Homo sapiens: one gene and its partners. The protein of the gene in region 3 purifies or fractionates together with the protein of the main gene of each other region. This does not show direct contact. Each region holds a gene or a part of one and is shown on either strand. Other genes may lie near its edges.

Region 1 (3,500 bases), on a different chromosome or scaffold from region 3:
TACAGAGGTTACAAATAAACACAGGTCACAATATCATGGCTTCTATCTTACTGCATAAGAATAATTTTATCAAACCCCAGCCAGGTGTGGTGGCTCACGCCTGTAATCCCGGCACTTTGGGAGGCTGAGGTGGGCGGATCACAAGGTCAGGAGATCAAGACCATCCTGGCTAACATGGTGAAACCACGTCTCTACTAAAAATAGAAAAAATTAGCCAGGCATGGTGGCGGGCACCTGTAGTCCCAGCTACTCAGGAGGCTGTGGCAGGAGAATGGCGTGAACCTGGGAGGCGGAGCTTGCAGTGAGCCGAGATCACACCACTGCACCACTGCACTCCAGCCTGGACAACAGAGCGAGACTCCGTCTCAAAAAAAAAAAAAAAAAAAAGAATAATTTTATCAAACCCCAATGTTAATAGAATTTCTTCCTCCCCTCCACCCAACACAGTCTTGCTCTTTTGCCCAGGCTGGAGTGCAATGCGTGATCTTGGCTCACTGCAACCTCTGCCTTCCGGGTTCAAGAGATTCTCCTGTCTCAGCCTCCCAAGTAGCTGGGATTACAGGCGCGGGCCACCATGCCCAGCTGATTTTTGTATTTTTATTTATTTTATTTATTTATTTTTTTGAGACAGAGTCTCGCTCTGTCGCCCAGGCTGGAGTGCAAGGGCTCGATCTTGGCTCACTGCAACCTCCGCCTCCTGGGTTCAAGCGATTCTCCTGCTTCAGCCCCACGAGTAGCTGGGATTACAGGCACGTGCACCACCATGCCCGGCTAATTTTTGTATTTTTAGTAGAGACGGGGTTTCACCATGTTGGTCAGGCTGGTCTTGAACTCCTGACCTCGTGATCTGCCCGCCTTGGCCTCCCAAAGTGCCAGGATTACAGGCGTGAGTCACTGTGCCGGGCCCTGATTTTTGTATTTTTAGTAGAGATGGGGTTTCACCATGTTGGCCAGGCTGGTCTCGAACTTATGACCCCATGATCTACCTGCCTCGGCCTCTCAAAGTGCTGGGATTACAGGCATGAGCCACCGTGCCCGGCCAGAATTTCTTTTTTAATACAACAATTTAAAATTTAAACACTCTATTATGGAAAAACATTATTCAAAATACTTTCTGAAACTAGGAGATGAATCCAACTAAATTTTAATATAATTTCATTATTGAATTAATACAATTAAATATAAAAGCTTAATATTGATTTAAAAATTAATAAAAATAATTTAAATTTAATGATTAAATTTGTTAATAAATTGTAATATAATTAAAAACTACAGGGAGAAGAGTTAGGACACTAGAAGGATGTAAATGCATTGAAGAATAAATACAAAATCCAGAAAAAGAAAAGATTTACTTGAGAGAGAGAGACATACATGTAATCTAACATATAACAGAAATTAAAATCTTGTCTATACAAAAGCCTAAGTACTACTGAACAGTACAGAATGATTTAAGTAAAAATTATGGCTTATTTACAATAAAACTTTAAGGTAACCACTTAAAATGCTTTTGAAAAATAGCATCATAAGTAACTTTACAATTATAATGGTAAATTAAAATAAGCACAATATAAACTATATAAAAGTAGAATAATAATTTGAGAAAAAAGTGTTTATATATATAAAATGATTAGGAAGAAATACATTAAAATATTACTAGTATTTTGAGTTTGGATTATGGATTATTTTTGTCTTTATACTTTTCAAATGTACTTTCTTGATAATCAGAAAAAATATTTAAAGACACATTTTGCCTAATGATATTACTAAATAACAATTCAAAAGATTCCACTTTCCAAGGATAAAATAAAAATAAGTAATATCCCATATTGCCAAAAATCACTATAAAAAAGAGCTCTCCTATGAAAGGATGAAAACACAATCCTATTACTTTCACAAGGTATTCTCTACATGCATTATTCAAAAACTACATCTTATGACATGTTTCTAAAAAAAAATTCATCAAGTACGGCTGTTATTTTAAATTTATAAGAAAGAATATTATTTTTTTGTGATAACTTACTTTCATTCATATTGATGAACTCCTGGTTGACCTCTTCATCTCCAGTCTTCTTGTTCTTTGACTTTTTAATGACATGAGCTCGGTCATGGATATGATGACCAATAGCCATTTTTTCTAGTCCACTGTCAGAATCTCTCATTGCTTTCCTGGTTTCCTTTATCTGTAAAAATAAAGAAATTTTATTATTATTTAAATATATATAGAATGTATATCTCAGGGCCAGCTTACCTACAGAGATATGGCCATAGATCTATTGCTCTAAAAATAATGTGTGCTCAGTTCCACTATTAACTTGTGGTAAAACTGTGGTAATAAGTCTCTGATATTTCCTGAACTCCTTAAAATGAAAATGTCTACAACAAACAGAACCCATACAATTTAACCTTTTTCCAAATTGTAATCAAATATTAAAACAAAAGTAGCAATTATAGTTTAATGCCTTCAAGACTGTCTTAGATAATGTAATAGAAGGAAGTTTATGGTGGGATTCCTACAAATAAGGGCAACTAATTATTCATCAGTCATATTGATTGGCTTGAATCTCATGATTCCCGACTATCAACTCTATGGAAGTATTATAAGAATATTTCTGATAGCAACTAACATGATTTACTGTGGGACATCTACAATTATATTCTGTTTACATTTAAGTTTGTCACTTTTAGAAAGTTAAAATTAAAATGTCTGAGATTAATTAGCAGAACTATGGCAAAAGCATCATTAAAAGGTTCATCTTTATATGTAAGAACTAAAAAATGTACTACTTCACATTCATTAGATTGGTAAACCTAAATTTTTACTATAAGTACTAACAAGGAAGTAGAGAAATGGAAACTCACAAGCCACAGTTTTGGAAGCCAACAATTTCAATCACTGGGATAGTAGCTTGGAAACGCTAGGTAAAGAGGAAAGTACACATACCCTACAACTCAGCAATACCACTCCTAGACTCTGTATAAGGAGCCATGTATAAAGATGAATTAGTGAAAGATTAGACTCACCTACATATCTATTGACAGAAAATGATTTAAAAATCATGGTACATTCATATTTTGGATATTACATAGAAGTTAAAGAAACCAGGGCCACATGTATCAACTTGAATAAATCTCAGAAGCGTATTAATCATAATATATTCATATTTTGGATACTACATAGAAGTTAAAGAAACCAGGGCCACATGTATCAAGCTGAATAAATCTCAGAAGCATATTACTCAGCAAAGACAAGTTGCAGAGGACATATGCAATATGATACCCTTTATGTAATGTTGGGAAATCTGGAAAATAATCCATTTTTTTAATGACAGAAACGTGAAGTAATAAAATTGTAAAAACATGCGTGAAAATGATAAACTCCAGATACAGGAAAATGGTAATCTCTGAGAAGGGGAGAAAGGGAAAATAGACCTCAGAGGAATGTATTAGAAGGTTTAACTGCCTCTGTACATTTTCGCTTAAAAAGAAAACAAAGCAAGAGA
Region 2 (3,500 bases), on a different chromosome or scaffold from region 3:
GCATGGTGGTGGGTGCCTGTAGTCCCAGCTACTCGGGAGGCTGAGGCAGGAGAATGGCGTGAACCCGGAAGGTGGAGCTTGCAGTGAGCTGAGATCGCGCCACTGCACTCCAGCCTGGGCGACAGAGCACGACTCCGTCTCAAAAAAAAAAAAAAAAAAAGTATAAAAGTATAACTGTTATTGGGGAAATGACCTGAAATGTGACTTTTAAAAATTCCTAAAGGTCCAATAATAAGGTCTCAGTTGACCCTAGAGATTTCCAATGGCAGGCCTAACTTAGTCCTGCTGGTTCATTAATGTGGCAAGGAAGAGTTTCCAGTTTCTTATGTGTACTGGGATAGACAGGATCTTATGTTTTAAATCTTAACACAAATATATCAAAATTATTTGAAAAGAGTCATAGAAAAATGTTCTAGGTGGCAGTCTCTACAAAAATACTGTACTAAAGCAAACGTTGGGAACCTTTTACCAATCTGCTTTCATAACGCTTAGACCTCATTAAACACACTTTGAAACATTTAGAAGCTTCCAAGTTGAATAACCAACTTATGTGCAATCCACAACTTTCCCGAGTGGGAGTCAACAAATCAGACACAGACATCTTTCATCAAAGAAGCAGCTTTTACAGAAAAGCAGATAACATTAAACAGAACAGATAAGGACAAAATGTTTTCAAAAGCACAACTGAAACAAATAGTATTCCACTTGGAGTCTCATGAAAATCCTGTAAAATACTATTCAACACCAAATAAAAAGCAGCAGCTGTATAGAAATAAGGAGCAAGTGGCAAATACACACTAGACCAGTTTTTCTGAAACGTCAGAGCAGAAAAAGAGAAGCCATAAGCAAATGAATGGCAAACACGGACCCAATTCAGAGAAGATACAAAGAGGAACAGCGGCCACCTCCAGCCCACCCAGGTGCATGAAGAAAGCAGGTGGGGGGTGGAAAGATCAATGAAAGGTGGAGATACAGAGTCTGAAACCAAATGCCTGCAAGTTCGGCTTATCTTGGTTTTTTCACTCTCCAGCCAAGTCACTTGCAGAACTACTGATTGACTCAAAGTACAAATAACTCCAAAATGTCACACACGTCAGTTATAAGCTACTCATTTCCCTCAAGCAAATCCAAGAGTACACAAACTATTATTTGTATTTCTTCTGGAATTTGTACTCATTAAGGTATCAGTAGTAAAGGTAATCAGATAGTAATGAAGAAAAAAACAGCTTCGGGTTGTATATGCACACAGATTCTATACAACCTCAGTAACATTGAAAAACCACTTGGTAAATAAGGCCTGATTTGCAATTCTTGACCCTCTGAAGGGGAACTATGGTATAAAAAGGACAATCATTTTATCAGTATCATGGTCTTTAATTCCCACTCACCAAAGCAGTGTTTATACCAAAACCTGGACTCTGCAGAAAGAGCTCATTTAAACAGACCATAGAACATCGACACACCATCGATGGCACATGGTGGGCACTCCACACATGGTAAGCTCACAGGGGCCCGCCCAACCCAGAAGGTAGACTGAATACTCCATACCATGACCCATCTCTGTCTGGGCATAAGTGCCAATGATCTCCAAGTTCCAGGCGGGCATGAAGAAGCGCTCCTGCTGCTCCGCAGTTGCCTGGTGAAGCAAGGTGGGCAGGAACATGCCCAAGTGAAGATCCAGAGGCTCAGGCCGCCCTCGGTGCACAAAACTTCGAGGAAATATCAAGGATGGGCATTTGAGAGAAGAGTCATCAGGTGTGAGAGAATCAGCAATTTAAATAGAGCAAGGGAAGGAGACAAAAAAACCTTAAGTATGAATTAGTTGCGTGCACTTAATCATAGATGGGAGCACTGTCCCTTTCTGTATTACTTTATAGCTCTTGTTAATTTCCATTTTTCCTGAGTCGGCAAGGAGTACGAGGACAGGGATTGGTTACTGATTCCAAAGCCAATGCAGCACAAAACCACACGTGCAAGGCAGAGGATCCTCGCCCAGGAATTAAATCAAAGGAAATAAAGAAAATTTGAGAGGCCAGTGCAGTGGATCATGCCTACAATCTCAGCACTTTGGGAGGCCAAGGCGGTCAGATCACCTTAAGTCAGGAGTTCGAGACCAGCCTGGCCAACATGGCAAAGCCCTGACTCTACTAAAAATACAAAAATCAGCTGAACGTGGTGGCGCCAGCCAGTAGTCCCAGCTATTTGGGAGCCTGAGGCAGGAAAATCGCTTGAACCTAGGAGGCGGAGGTTGCAGTGAGCCGAGATCATGCCCACTGCATTCCAGCCTGGGTGACAGAGTGAGACTCTGTCTCAAAAAAAATAAATAAATAAATAAGAGAGAATTGGCCAGGTGCAGTGGCTCCCACCTATAATCTCAGCACTCTGAGAGGCCGAGGTGGGTGGATCACCTGAGGTCAGGAGTTCAAGACCAGCCTGGCCAACATGGCGAAACCCTGTCTCTACTAAAAATACAAAAATTAAGCAGGCATGGTGGTGCACACCTGTAATCCCAGCTACTCAGGAGGCTGAGGCAGGAGAATTGCTCCAACCCAGGAGGCAGAGGTTGCAGTGAGCTAAGATAACACCACTGCATTCTAGCCTGGGCGACACAGTGAGACTCCATCTCAAAAAAAAAAAAAAAAAGAGAGAGAGAATTTGAAAAGTTGTATAGGGCCAGGCATGGTGGCTCATGCCTGTAATCCTAGCACTTTGGGAGGCTGACGCAGGCGGATCACTTGAGGTCAGGAGTTTGAGACCAGCCTGGCCAACATAGTGAAATCCCGTTTCTACTAAAAATACAAAAAAAAAAAAAAAAAAAAAAGGCCGGGCACCGTGGCTCATGCCTGTAATCCCAGCACTTTGAGAGGCCAAGGTGGGCGGATCACCTGAGGTCAGGAGTTCAAGACCAGCCTGACCAACATGGTGAGACCCCATCTCTACTAAATATACAAAATCAGCCAGGTGTGGTGGCACATGCCTGTAATCCAAGCTACTTGGGAGACTGAGGCAGGAGAACCTGGGAGGCGGTGGTTGCAGTGAGCCGAGATCACACCACTGCACTCCAGCCTGGGCAACAGAGCGAGACTCTGTCTCAAAAAAAAAAAAAAAAAAAAAAAGTTGTATAGAATGGAGAATTTGCTGGGTGTGGTGGCATGTGCCTGTAATCCCAGCTACTTGGGATGCTGAGGCAGAATCGCTTGAAGCCAGGAGTCGGAGAACAGAGAATTTGAGTGGTACTGGTACAAGGATTTCCTCTGATGAGAAAGCGAGACAGAACATAGTAGTTCTCTCAGAGTGACAGTATGACCCCCAGATTATAGTTTTTCCTCGATGCAATTTCAATAATGCTTCTAGGCTGGGATTTTTTTTCTGTTTTGTCCACAAAACATCCAGCGTAGAACCATATTCCTCACATAGCTCTGATCATTTCATTCAGATTCATCATGTCAAATATTCGGCCACGCTCTACTGAAACACTTTAATACAAAAACTGACAGTGC
Region 3 (3,250 bases):
CAGCCATGGACACGGGGCTATGGGCAGGTATGTGGTTCTGCTCTGATCGCACCTGCCCACCCCCGAAGGTGTCTGTCCTGGCAGCGGCTGGGCCTGGGGCAAGCTGAGCCTGCTGCTGTACTCCTACTTTTGCTGGGCTCAGTTGGGGGAAGTAGAATGACACCCTGGGCCCCTGGGTATTAGCAACATTCATCAGCCCACCAGACCTGGGCCTGCTGGGCCCCACAGTCCCCTGGGAGAGTTGCCCCTACCCACAACCCATGGGACTTGGGAAGGCCCAAGCCAGAGGTAGGTGGGAAGCTGCTGGTGAAGGACGCAGCCCTGGCTCTGGTATGGTTCTGGGCCCAGTGCCCCAAGGTCACAGCTGGACCTTGGCTCCTGGGCCAAAGCCCTCAGGCCCACCAGCTGCTTGGACACCAGCTCCGAGGCCCAGGGAAAGCTGAAGAGGGCAAGGCCAGGTGCCTGCCCCCACCCTGCCTGCCTCTCAGCTGAAACACCTCTTCACCAACACAATTCCCCTTTATTGATGACCTTCCACATTAATATCATACAGCAGGGCGGGGGCAGGAACCAAGCTGAGTGGAACCAGAGGCGGCTCGCTAGCAATGTTATCCACAGGAGCACAGCCGCAACGGAGGTGAAACCTCACACCCTGGCCCCTCGGCCCCAGACAATCCTGTCTCCAGGTCCTGGGAGTTTGGGAAGCAGGGTACAGATGGTGGCCTGGTCATGGAGTTGGCAGGGAGTGGCCGGGGCTGAGCTGGTGAGACAAAGAGCTCTTGCCAGTCTCCTGCTCTGGAGGGCTGGTTCCCTTCCCCAGAGGAGGCACCGGTGGAGGACGTGCCAGGGGCCCGGGCCTAACGTCCTGCTCAGCCTCTGCACTCAGCCCCAGGTCGGGCCCTGGCAGGTGCTGGGATGACCCACGGAAGGCACTTGGCTGGGGCCTGCAGGCCCCCTGGAGGATGCGGTCCGTGGCTCAGTAGATTTGGGGGGACCAGGGAAGAGGGAACCAAGGAAGAGGGAACCAAGGAGCTGAGCCCTGGTGGGTGGCCCATCCCAGGGTGGGCTTGGCTGTGGCATTGGCAGGCCTGAGTCCTAGGGGCTCAGAGCTTGGCCCGGGGGTGGCTCTGCAGCAGGGCACGCATGTCCAGGAGCGCCTTCTCCAGGTAATGCGCCAGGCGGGCGGCGTTGGTCTCCGCGCAGCTGTTGTAGGCCGACAGGGAGAAGTTGATGTGGGCCTCCATGGGGTTATAGCAGACACCGTAGCCGTCGGGGACCACGGGCCCGAAGAACATGACACAGTCTGTCTTGGCAGGGACCTGGGGACGGCAGGATGAAAGCTCTCAGCTCCCCTACCTTGACGCCCCCAGCACTTCCCAGGCTGCCTGTGCTTCCGCCAAGACTGCAGGCCCCTTGTGGGCAGGGATCATGGTCTGTCCCCTGCTATATCCCAGCAACCACTACAGGCTGGCACGAATCAAATGTTCCTTTATACCTGACCAGTGAGTCAGCGAAGCTGATTCTCCCATGAGGAGCACTGACCCCTTCTCAGCCTGCCTGGGCTGCAGAGAGGCCCCTGCCCCCAGCTCCTCCTCTGGAACTCAGCTGTGTTGGCAATGGGTCAGTGGGGCCTGTGTAGGCCACATCAAACTACCAGTGGGTTCTCTGCCTCCAGCCCCCGGGGCACCTGGGGCAGTGGCCCACCTGGCTGGTGGAGAGGTGGAAGTGCATGGCGATGGCGTAGGAGGTGTCCATGAAGATGTCGGGCATGCTCACCAGGTCCTCGATGGCCTGCAGCTTCAGGCCCAGCAGGTGTCGATCAAAGGCCTCCCCGCGGATGGCCTGTTGGGGTGGGAGAGCTGTCAGGAGCAGGGGCTGTGGACCCCCGGGGTATCCCTGCCCTCTTCAGCCTGTGGCAGCGCCACCCTTCGCAGGCACTGGCCACTCAAAACCACAAGACCAGAGTATTCTGGCCAGAGAGAGCCTTCGTTTCACAGATGGGGAAACCAAGGCTCAGGGAGGGGCGGGGATTTGCCCAGGGAGGCAGGAAAGTGCAGGGTTGTAGGGCAGGGCCCTGGAGCTGGGTGACCTAGCCCCATCCTGGCTGCAGGGCCTTGGCAGGTTGCTTAGGTTCTGGAACTGTAGTGTCTTCATCTGTAAAGAGGGGTGAGTCCTACACTCCCCTCGCAGGGTGGCGGTGAGCTCTAAATGGACGTGTGCATGTAGCACGGTCAGAGCCTGGACACACAGGTGCTCAGAGACAGAGCCAGGACACGCATCCAGACAGCCACCTCCCTGACTGCAGCCCAAGCTGCTGGAGGGCAGGAAACTGGCTGTCTGCTGGACCATGTATACCTAGCGTCAGGGAGAGATACCTAGCATCAGGGAGAGAGTGTGACCCAACATCTAGGGCCCAGGCCAGCCCTGGAACCTGGAACCAAGGCAGTTACTGGGCCCAGGCTGGGTTTCTCCAACTTTAAAATGGGGATATTTGGCCGGGCACGGTGGCTCACGCCTATAATCCCAGCACTTTGGGAGCCTGAGGTGGGTGGATCACCTGAGGTCAGGAGTTTGAGACCAGCCTGTCAACATGGTGAAACCCTGTTTCTACTAAAAATGGAAAAATTAGCCAGGTGTGGTGGTGGGTGCCTGTAATCCCAGCTACTTGGGAGGCTGAGGCAGGAGAATTGCTTGAACCTGGGAGGCGGAGGTTGCAGTGAGCCTAAATCACACCACTGCACTCCAGCCTGGGCGACAGAGCAAGACTCCATCTCAAAAAAAAAAAAAAAGAAAAAGTTGGGGGCTATTCAGCCTGGCTCCAGGTGCTCCCAGGTTGGGGGAGATGTGGTCCTAGCAAAGGGTTGGCAGCCATTGGCTGCAGGGACGGACAGTCAGAGGGACAGACAGATGGCTGACACTAAGGGACAAGTGAGTAGGCACAAGCGGGCTCACTTACCCGGTCGGTGTAGCCTCGGTGGGCCTGCACGGCCTTCCGCAGCAGCTCCACCTTCTGGTGCTCCTAGAGTGGTGAGGGTCAGAGGGAGCTGAAGCACTGTCCCTTCTCTTCTGGCCCACCTCAGTAGCCCACCCCCACCCAGCACTAGATTCTGAGCTCTTTAAGAGGAAATATTGGGGCTGGGAGCGGTGGCTCACGCCTGTAATCCCAGCACTTTGGGAGGCCGAGGCAGGTGGATCCCTTGAGGTCAGGAGTTTGAGACCAGCCTGGCCAACATGGTGAAATCCCGTTTCT
Region 4 (3,500 bases), on a different chromosome or scaffold from region 3:
ACTTTTTTTTTGAGATGGATCCTTGCTCTGTAGCCCAGGCTGGAGTGCAGTGGCGTGATCTCAGCTCACTGCAACCTCCGCCTCCCGGGTTCAAGCGATTCTCCTGCCTCAGCCTCCCAAGTAGCTGGGATTACAGGCACCTGCCACCACGCCTGGTTAATTTTTGTATTTTTAGTCAAGATGGGGTTTCACCATGTTGGCCAGGCTGGTCTCGAACTCCTGACCTCAAGTGATCCACCAGCCTTGGCCTCCCAAAGTGCCAGGATTACAGGTGTGAGCCCCCATACCCAGCCTCACTTTTTCTTCTTAAACAATCCTAGGAGAGAGACGCTACAGGCAGCCCCAGTGGACCATGTGCAAACTGAGACACAGACATTAGAAACTGCTCAAGGTAGGCCAGGCACAGTGGCTCACACCTGTAATTCCTGAACTTTGGGAGGCTGACGGGGGAGGATGGCTTGAGTCCAGGAGCTCGAGACCAGCCTGGGAAACACGGTGAAACCACGTCTCTACAAAAATACAAAAAAATTTTTAAGAAAAAGAAACTGTCCAAGGTTATAGAACTCTCAGGAGGCAGAGAAGCTGAGCTCAGAACCCAGGCAATCTGGCTCCAAAGTCCATGCCCTTACCCACCACACCCTGCTTTCCTGAGGCAGGAAGCCTGGAACAGTAACAGAACTGCAGCCAGTGAGGCCGAGGCCACGAGGGCAGGGGCATGAGGAGAGGCAGATGCCAGCATCAGCGGGACCCTCAGCCCCAAGGCCGCAAGAGCACATTCAGAATTCGATATTTTATACAAAGAGCCACGTGAAGCCACTGAAGAGTTTACAGCGAGGGGAGAGAGATACGGTCTTATTTACAATTTTCAAAAGAGGCCACCGTGGCTACCGGCCCCTGGAGTGCTGTTACCGGCCTTTGACAGCCTGCGGCCCCTTTATCACCAGAGCGCTTGACAGCCCCCTGTTGGGAGAGGATAGAATGTTCTGAGCTGGGACACAGGCTTTACACAATCTTGTCATCTGCTTAGCCACTTGTTAGTAGAACAGGCACAGATCCAGCAATATTCTTGTCACCACAACGCTGGGAGCGAATCCGGATTAATGGAGGGACACTGCCAGGGCCAGGGGAGACAACACGCGCAGGGTCACGGACACGGGGTCCAAGGCCAGGCACCTGCGAGTGAGGCCAGGGCTGCTTCTCCAGGTTACTTGGGCAAATTGCTCCACCTCCCTGGGTGTCGGTTTTCTCCTATAAAACGGGGTTAATAATAGCGCCTCTGTCCAGAGCTGGCGAGAGGATTATGCATGATGGAATATGAAGCTGCTCAGAGAGCCGGCTCCGGGAAGTCCTTGATGGCCATTGCTGTTGTCTGAAGGTGCTGTACCCCTAAGTGGACAGGCCTTCTCTGAGTGGGGCAAATACCTCTGACTGGGTGGTAGATGTGCATTTTCACATGCTCTGGTCCTGCTGCTCCTGCCCAGAAGCTCCGTGGGTGCAGGCCTGTGACCATCTTGCTCAGTAAGGTGACCTGTGTGCTTCATGTCTGCTGAGTGTGGGAGACAGCAAGGGGCTGAGAGAAGCTGCAGCAGGACTGGGCCTGGCATGTGGGGGACTCCTTTAGCAGACCTGTGTTCAGCTAGGAAGGTCCTACGAGCCCAGCAACTATCAGGAGGTCAACAAAATCATCCTCATCTCAAAGAGCCAGTAGTCTGGCTCCTCCACAGATTTTGTCCCCAGGAGGAGACTCCTGGGAGTACTAATGGTGCGGTGAGAGGTGGGATGTGTAGCAAAACTAGGGACACAGAGAGGCCACTGTCTCCAACACACTGCACTGCTGAGGGAGCCCAGTGCTACAGTGACAAATAAGGCTGAGGAGTACAGGAGGCAAACACATCCATTTAGGGGCCAGGTGCGGGGGCTCACGCCTGTAATCCCTAAACTTTGGAAGGCCAAGGCAGGAGGATTGCTCAAGGCCAGGAGTTCGAGACCAGCCTGGGCAACATAGCAATACCCTGTCTTTACAAAAGAAAACAAAATCCACTTGGGATAAAATTCTGCTTCAGGAAGATTCTCATCATTCAGGCCTCAGCTCAAACATCAGCCTCTAGAGGTACCACCCTATCTCACCTTCCCAGTTCCACACTGTCACATTCTCCTACGATAACCACAATCTGAAACTATCAACTTCATTCATTCATTAGCTTCCTCTCTTTGTCCACCCCTCACCCTCCCTGGTAAGCTGGTAAGCTCGTGGTAAGCTCCATAAAGGCAAGGACCATGTCTGTGTTGTTCACCACGATGCCTAACACAGAGCCTGCCTGTGCTTGATAAAGTAGGTGAAATGGATGCTGCAGCCAGGCACGGTGGCTCACGCCTGTAATCTTAGCACTTTGGGAGGCCGAGGCAGGTGGATTGCCTGAGCTCAGGAGTTCGAGACCAGCCTGGGCAACACGGTGAAACCCCGTCTCTACCAAAATTTAAAAAAAAATTAGACGGGTGTGGCAGCATGCGCCTGTAATCACAGCTACTCGGGAGGCTGAGGCAGGAGAATTGCTAGAACCCAGGAGGCGGAGGCTGCAGTGAGCCGAGATCGCCCCATTGCACTCCAGCCTGGGCAACAGAGCGAGACTCCGTCTCTAAAAAAAAAAAAAGAAAAAGAAAAAGAAAAGAGAAAAAGAGAAATGGATGCTGCAAAGGATGTCTGCATTCACGATGCCATCACTTTAGTTTCTCATTGGTACCTCCCAAGAATCCTGGGAGATCAGCTGGAGAGCAAAGAAACGGGCTCAGAAAGATGGCATGAGGTACGACAAGTAGCTCAAGGTTAGCAGATGATGGACCCGATAATCCAAGCCTGGCCTTCTGACTTGGAACCTGTATTCCTCTCACCACCCCACGATTCCCATGTCCAGCAAGCATTTCTGCAGCCCCCACCCTCTGCCTGAGCTGGACCCAGTCGGGGAATGGGGATGGGTGGGACAGGTAGAGGACAGCAATAAAGGAGACACATCCTGCCTGCAGCTCTAGCTGGAAGAGCATACCACCTAGTATCAAAGTAGGTATGTGCTCTAACTTCATACTGTTCTGTCCATAAAAAAATAAACAATTTAAAATGTATATTCTCTTAAAAAATAAAAATGCAGGCCAGGCGCGGTGGCTCACGCCTGTAATCCTACAACTCTGGGAGGCCAAGGTGGGTGGATCGCCTGAGATTGGGAGTTTGAGACTAGCCTGGCCAACATAGCGAAACCCCGCCTCTACTAAAAATACAAAAATTAGCTGGACGAACACCTGTAATCCCAGCTACTCAGGAGGCTGAGGCAGGAGAATGGCGTGAACCCAGGAGGGAGAGGTTGCAGTGAGCTGAGATCGTGCCATTGCACTCCAGCCTGGGCAACAGAGCAAAAACTCCATCTCTACATAAATAAATGTATTGCACCACTGGAGAGGATAGTCACACATGCATTTACCATTCTTGACTTATCTAAGAGAAGCTGCCA

The links. The genes of interacting proteins can lie anywhere in the genome.
Region 1: the proteins of CRAT (region 3) and MLF1 purify together in Homo sapiens (affinity purification with a luminescence readout; one large-scale study listed by IntAct). This does not show direct contact.
Region 2: the proteins of CRAT (region 3) and ACOX1 fractionate together in Homo sapiens (co-fractionation; one large-scale study listed by BioGRID). This does not show direct contact.
Region 4: the proteins of CRAT (region 3) and SPATA2 purify together in Homo sapiens (affinity purification with mass spectrometry; one large-scale study listed by BioGRID and IntAct). This does not show direct contact.

The regions. Positions count from the first base shown.
Region 1 is NC_000003.12:158,598,694-158,602,193, reverse strand, and holds part of MLF1 (myeloid leukemia factor 1), read right to left. Parts: intron 2,181-3,500; coding exon 2,021-2,180; intron 1-2,020. UniProt on the Homo sapiens protein: Involved in lineage commitment of primary hemopoietic progenitors by restricting erythroid formation and enhancing myeloid formation.
Region 2 is NC_000017.11:75,958,667-75,962,166, forward strand, and holds part of ACOX1 (peroxisomal acyl-coenzyme A oxidase 1), read right to left. Parts: intron 1,710-3,500; coding exon 1,549-1,709; intron 1-1,548. UniProt on the Homo sapiens protein: Involved in the initial and rate-limiting step of peroxisomal beta-oxidation of straight-chain saturated and unsaturated very-long-chain fatty acids.
Region 3 is NC_000009.12:129,094,294-129,097,543, forward strand, and holds the end of CRAT (carnitine O-acetyltransferase), read right to left. Parts: intron 3,020-3,250; coding exon 2,957-3,019; intron 1,843-2,956; coding exon 1,705-1,842; intron 1,320-1,704; coding exon 1,104-1,319; 3' UTR 501-1,103; downstream 1-500. UniProt on the Homo sapiens protein: Catalyzes the reversible transfer of acyl groups from carnitine to coenzyme A (CoA) and regulates the acyl-CoA/CoA ratio. Also plays a crucial role in the transport of fatty acids for beta-oxidation.
Region 4 is NC_000020.11:49,909,030-49,912,529, forward strand, and holds part of SPATA2 (spermatogenesis-associated protein 2), read right to left. Parts: exon of another isoform or gene 1,423-3,500; intron 1-1,422.